2 linked regions of the Homo sapiens genome follow. The protein of the gene in region 1 purifies or fractionates together with the protein of each later gene. This does not show direct contact. Each region holds a gene or a part of one and is shown on either strand. Other genes may lie near its edges.

The links.
Region 2: the proteins of TEP1 (region 1) and TERT purify together in Homo sapiens (affinity purification with western blotting, with the first as the bait; 2 studies listed by BioGRID). This does not show direct contact.

What each region holds. Positions count from the first base shown.
Region 1 is NC_000014.9:20,365,040-20,368,699, reverse strand, and holds the end of TEP1 (telomerase protein component 1), read left to right. Parts: intron 1-140; coding exon 141-263; 3' UTR 264-3,033; downstream 3,034-3,660. UniProt on the Homo sapiens protein: Component of the telomerase ribonucleoprotein complex that is essential for the replication of chromosome termini. Also a component of the ribonucleoprotein vaults particle, a multi-subunit structure involved in nucleo-cytoplasmic transport.
Region 2 is NC_000005.10:1,254,793-1,257,318, reverse strand, and holds part of TERT (telomerase reverse transcriptase), read left to right. Parts: intron 1-1,907; coding exon 1,908-2,032; intron 2,033-2,526. UniProt on the Homo sapiens protein: Telomerase is a ribonucleoprotein enzyme essential for the replication of chromosome termini in most eukaryotes. Active in progenitor and cancer cells. Inactive, or very low activity, in normal somatic cells.

The sequences.
Region 1 (3,660 bases):
AAAGATCAAAATTCTGTTTTCTTCAATCACTTGCAATGTATGACTAACCTGTTTCTAAATAAAAGGCATTAATGTGAGAAAAAATAAGTTAGTAAGGAGGCTTGTAGCCCTGACCTCCCCTATTTTTGTTCCCATCGTAGCTGGGCCTGTTCCGATGCGAAGGGTCAGTGAGCTGCCTGGAACCTTGGCTGGGCGCTAACTCCACCCTGCAGCTTGCCGTGGGAGACGTGCAGGGCAATGTGTACTTTCTGAATTGGGAATGAAGATGTGCCACTCGGGAATAATGATACCCCTTGTGCTAGAGATGCAAAGCCTGAAGACACTGGTAGCTTTTAATAATTATAAAATTAATAATTTCTTGATAATTATAAAAATGAAGTGTCAAAAAATCTCAAGTGTAGGCCTGCCTGTGTTCTCATGTGGATTTAGAACAGGAGGATATTCTATGTGTATGTATATGTACATTCTAATGTGTGTCTCTTCTTATTCAACATTAATCCTTACTAGAACCACAAGAAAGTGAATGAAATCTTTAGTAGGTACTCTTTTGAAACTAGGTTTTAGAATTCTTGCATCACTCGCGGGCCCTAGGACCCTAGGATGCCATTCTTGCCAGGAGGAGGAATGAGAGTGATGTTGGCCAACATTCAATTTGAACAGAGCATGGAAGACCTTTCAGTTCATCGGGAAAGAATGAGGGAGGGAGAATAAGTCAGTCATGCATCAGGGCATTTAGAAAGAGCTATGTTTCTGTCACAGAGACAGCCCTTTTCTCAGAACTACCCAGAGGAGGCCGGGCATGGTGGCTCACGCTTGTAATCCCAGCACTTTGGGAGGCCGAGGTGGGCAGATCACGAGGTCAGGAGATCAAGACCATCCTGGCTAACATAGTGAAACCCTGTCTCTACTAAAAAATACAAAAAGTTAGCCAGGTGTGGCGGCGGGCACCTGTAGTCCCAGCTACTTGGGAGGCTGAGGCAGGAGAATGGCGTGAACCCAGGAGGCGGAGCTTGCAGTGAGCCGAGACACCACTGCACTCCAGCCTGGGCAACAGAGCGAGACTCTGTCTAAAAAAAAAAAAAAAGAACTACCCAGATGAGAGGTGAGGAGCCAAGCCATTGAAAGCGGAACAAACCTTCTGGTTTTCCCAACTTCTGACACGACTTTCAACTTTAGTCAATATGGTAATTGGCATTCTCAGAAGAGATCACGAAAGTGTCTTACTCTCTCTCAAATTGAAATTCACAAAGATTAAAACTAATTGAGAGGTGGCACAATCATAGCCATGAACTCTGATTTTCTTAAGTAAAAAACCTTTTTTTTTTTTTTTTGTTTTTGAGATAGAGTCTGGCTCTGTCACCTAGGCTGGAGTGCAATGGTGCAATCTCAGCTCAGTGCAACCTCTGCTTCCTGGGTTCAAGCGATTCTCCTGCCTTAGCCTCCCGAGTAGCTGGGATTACAGGTGCCCACCACCACGCCCAGCTAATTTTTGTATTTCAGTAGAGACGAAGTTTCACCATGTTGGCCAGGTGGGTCTCAAACTCCTGACCTCAGGTTATCTGCACACCTCAGCCTCTTAAAGTTCTGGGATTACAGGCGTGAGCCATTGTGCCCGGCCCATAAAAGAACTTTATTATATTTCTAAAATTCAATCATATGGAAGAATCTATTGAGCAGGTTAGCCTTTGCTTAACTTTCCTCCTCTGTTACTCCAGCCTTAGCTGGGGTGTTTTGTAGAATTTTCAGAGCATGGGAGACAGACAACTAGAGCTTCCTCCTGCCCTTGGCCCATGCTTTTAGGAGAGCAAAAGGCAAAAGATTGAAACCACTGACTTTAGTTTCCTCAGGCCCTTTCTTTCTGAGGGTTAAAGAAGAAGGAAATGTCTTCTGTGGCCAAGAATTCAAGGACTTGTAGGAGATAAGTGAAGGCTATTACAGGGATTTTGTCCTGGTTTGGTAGGTTTCTCTTGGAGAAATACCACTACACCCTGGTCTAGAAATGAGTTTTGAAGACTTGGGGAGTTAAAGGGCACTGAGTTTTACTCTCACTGTACCCTGATTCCAGGTTTTACATGGAGAAATAACCTGAGGGACTTTATTTCTATCCAATGCCCTGGTTTCCATCCTGACCAGAGGATGATGACATCCGCTGATAGGCCATGCTTCTGTCTTCTCTTATGTGCCTCATGCCAAGCCTCGAAATATACCTTCTGGACCATCATTTCCACATCTACCTTGTGACTAGAAGTCCTAGTTATGGTATTTTGAAATTTATGATCCATAATCCTTGCCAGAAATCCTGCAGCGAACTATGGCATGGCATCATCCTAGTCATTGATTTCAATCTTTTGCCTTTTGCTCCCCTAAAATCTTGGGCCAATTGCAGGAGGAAGCTCTATTTGTCTCTCTTCCATGCTCTGAAAATTATATAAAAGCATCCCAGCTAAGGCTGGAGTGAAGGGGTTGGGGAAAGTTAAGCAAAGGCTAACTTGACCAATAGGCTCAATAGATTCAGTCTTGTTGGCCAGGCCCACTTGAAGGGTTTTTTGTTTCATCTTGGAGAAGGACAGTGAGGTCATGGTATAATTGTTATGAGTAAAGTCAAGAACAGCTTCTAGGTAAAAGTAATTATGTACCCAAAAGGAGTTGAAGGGAAAATCAATTTAGGTTTACATTAAACATCCTTCAAGTTCTTATCTTTAAATGGAGTTTCAGTGTCTCCCAAAGGCTGGATGAGTTTTACAGTTATAACCACTGGATTGTGAGACCATAGGACATTTGAACAATCTTTTCTTCTACCCATCTAGAAAAGCATCTTTTTTATATACCAAATTTTTACACATATATCCACATCTGTTTTTGAAATCTAGAGCAGAGGTACTCAAAGTTTGGTTCATGGACTAGTGCCAGTTCACAAATTGTTAATGTTTTATAATGAGATAAGTACGGAAGTTGAGAGTAACCATTTAGAAACTGTGTAGGAATTTAAAAAGTAATATCTGACAAATTTAATAATAAAAATGGAGGCTTGTATTTTGTGTGCTTTTTAATTTCATTTTCTTAATAATCCATTTTGATTATATTTTATAAAAGTATTATTCCGTGACAGATAAGAAATTAAAACAGGCCAGGCACGGTGGCTCACGCCTATAATCCCAGCACTTTGAAAGGCCAAGGCGGGTGGATCACCTGGGGTCTGGAGTTCGAGGCGAGCCTGGCCAATATGGTGAAACCCCGTCTCTACTAAAAATACAAAAAATTAGCTGGGCATGGTGGCAGGCACCTGTAATCCCAGCTACTTGGGGGGCTGAGGCAGGAGAATCGCTTGAACTCAGGGGGCAGAGGTTGCAGTGAGCCGAGATCGCATCATTGCACTCCAGGCTGGGCAACAAGAATGAAACTTGGTCAAAAAAAAAAAAAAAAGAAAAAAAAGAAAGCAAGAAAGAGAGAGGGAGGGCGGGAGGGAGGCAGGAAGGAAGAAAGAAAGACAAAGGAACAATTAGTCCTTCATCTCAGAAGGTTTGAGAAGCACTACTCTAGAGAGACTGGGTAACAGCAGCAAAAAGCATGGACTTGGAATAAGACTGCCTGAGTTCAAATCTTCATGCCTCCTTTCCCCCATTTGTACAACAGCCATAATAATGGTGCTTACTTCATGGG
Region 2 (2,526 bases), on another chromosome or scaffold:
CCAGGTGAAAACTCCTGGGAAACTCCCAGGGCCATGTGACCTGCCACCTGCTCCTCCCATATTCAGCTCAGTCTTGTCCTCATTTCCCCACCAGGGTCTCTAGCTCCGAGGAGCTCCCGTAGAGGGCCTGGGCTCAGGGCAGGGCGGCTGAGTTTCCCCACCCATGTGGGGACCCTTGGGTAGTCGCTTGATTGGGTAGCCCTGAGGAGGCCGAGATGCGATGGGCCACGGGCCGTTTCCAAACACAGAGTCAGGCACGTGGAAGGCCCAGGAATCCCCTTCCCTCGAGGCAGGAGTGGGAGAACGGAGAGCTGGGCCCCGATTTCACGGCAGCCAGGCTGCAGTGGGCGAGGCTGTGGTGGTCCACGTGGCGCTGGGGGCGGGGTCTGATTCAAATCCGCTGGGGCTCGGCCTTCCTGGCCCGTGCTGGCCGCGCCTCCACACGGGCTTGGGGTGGACGCCCCGACCTCTAGCAGGTGGCTATTTCTCCCTTTGGAAGAGAGCCCCTCACCCATGCTAGGTGTTTCCCTCCTGGGTCAGGAGCGTGGCCGTGTGGCAACCCCGGGACCTTAGGCTTATTTATTTGTTTAAAAACATTCTGGGCCTGGCTTCCGTTGTTGCTAAATGGGGAAAAGACATCCCACCTCAGCAGAGTTACTGAGAGGCTGAAACCGGGGTGCTGGCTTGACTGGTGTGATCTCAGGTCATTCCAGAAGTGGCTCAGGAAGTCAGTGAGACCAGGTACATGGGGGGCTCAGGCAGTGGGTGAGATGAGGTACACGGGGGGCTCAGGCAGTGGGTGAGGCCAGGTACATGGGGGGCTCAGGCACTGGGTGAGATGAGGTACACGGGGGGCTCAGGCAGAGGGTCAGACCAGGTACACGGGGGCTCTGATCACACGCACATATGAGCACATGTGCACATGTGCTGTTTCATGGTAGCCAGGTCTGTGCACACCTGCCCCAAAGTCCCAGGAAGCTGAGAGGCCAAAGATGGAGGCTGACAGGGCTGGCGCGGTGGCTCACACCTGTAGTCCCAGCACTTTGGGAGGCCGAGGCGAGAGGATCCCTTGAGCCCAGGAGTTTAAGACCAGCCTGAGCAACATAGTAGAACCCCATCTCTATGAAAAATAAAAACAAAAATTAGCTGAGCATGGTGGTGTGCGCCTGTAGTTCCAATACTTGGGAGGCTGAAGTGGGAGGATCACTTGAGCCCAGGAGGTGGAAGCTGCAGTGAGCTGAGATTGCACCACTGTACTGCAGCCTGGGTGACAGAGTGAGAGCCCATCTCAACAACAACAAAGAAGACTGACAAATGCAGTTTCTTGGAAAGAAACATTTAGTAGGAACTTAACCTACACACAGAAGCCAAGTCGGTGTCTCGGTGTCAGTGAGATGAGATGATGGGTCCTCACACCATCACCCCAGACCCAGGGTTTATGCACCACAGGGGCGGGTGGCTCAGAAGGGATGCGCAGGACGTTGATATACGATGACATCAAGGTTGTCTGACGAAGGGCAGGATTCATGATAAGTACCTGCTGGTACACAAGGAACAATGGATAAACTGGAAACCTTAGAGGCCTTCCCGGAACAGGGGCTAATCAGAAGCCAGCATGGGGGGCTGGCATCCAGGATGGAGCTGCTTCAGCCTCCACATGCGTGTTCATACAGATGGTGCACAGAAACGCAGTGTACCTGTGCACACACAGACACGCAGCTACTCGCACACACAAGCACACACACAGACATGCATGCATGCATCCGTGTGTGTGCACCTGTGCCCATGAGGAAACCCATGCATGTGCATTCATGCACGCACACAGGCACCGGTGGGCCCATGCCCACACCCACGAGCACCGTCTGATTAGGAGGCCTTTCCTCTGACGCTGTCCGCCATCCTCTCAGGTTTCACGCATGTGTGCTGCAGCTCCCATTTCATCAGCAAGTTTGGAAGAACCCCACATTTTTCCTGCGCGTCATCTCTGACACGGCCTCCCTCTGCTACTCCATCCTGAAAGCCAAGAACGCAGGTATGTGCAGGTGCCTGGCCTCAGTGGCAGCAGTGCCTGCCTGCTGGTGTTAGTGTGTCAGGAGACTGAGTGAATCTGGGCTTAGGAAGTTCTTACCCCTTTTCGCATCAGGAAGTGGTTTAACCCAACCACTGTCAGGCTCGTCTGCCCGCCCTCTCGTGGGGTGAGCAGAGCACCTGATGGAAGGGACAGGAGCTGTCTGGGAGCTGCCATCCTTCCCACCTTGCTCTGCCTGGGGAAGCGCTGGGGGGCCTGGTCTCTCCTGTTTGCCCCATGGTGGGATTTGGGGGGCCTGGCCTCTCCTGTTTGCCCTGTGGTGGGATTGGGCTGTCTCCCGTCCATGGCACTTAGGGCCCTTGTGCAAACCCAGGCCAAGGGCTTAGGAGGAGGCCAGGCCCAGGCTACCCCACCCCTCTCAGGAGCAGAGGCCGCGTATCACCACGACAGAGCCCCGCGCCGTCCTCTGCTTCCCAGTCACCGTCCTCTGCCCCTGG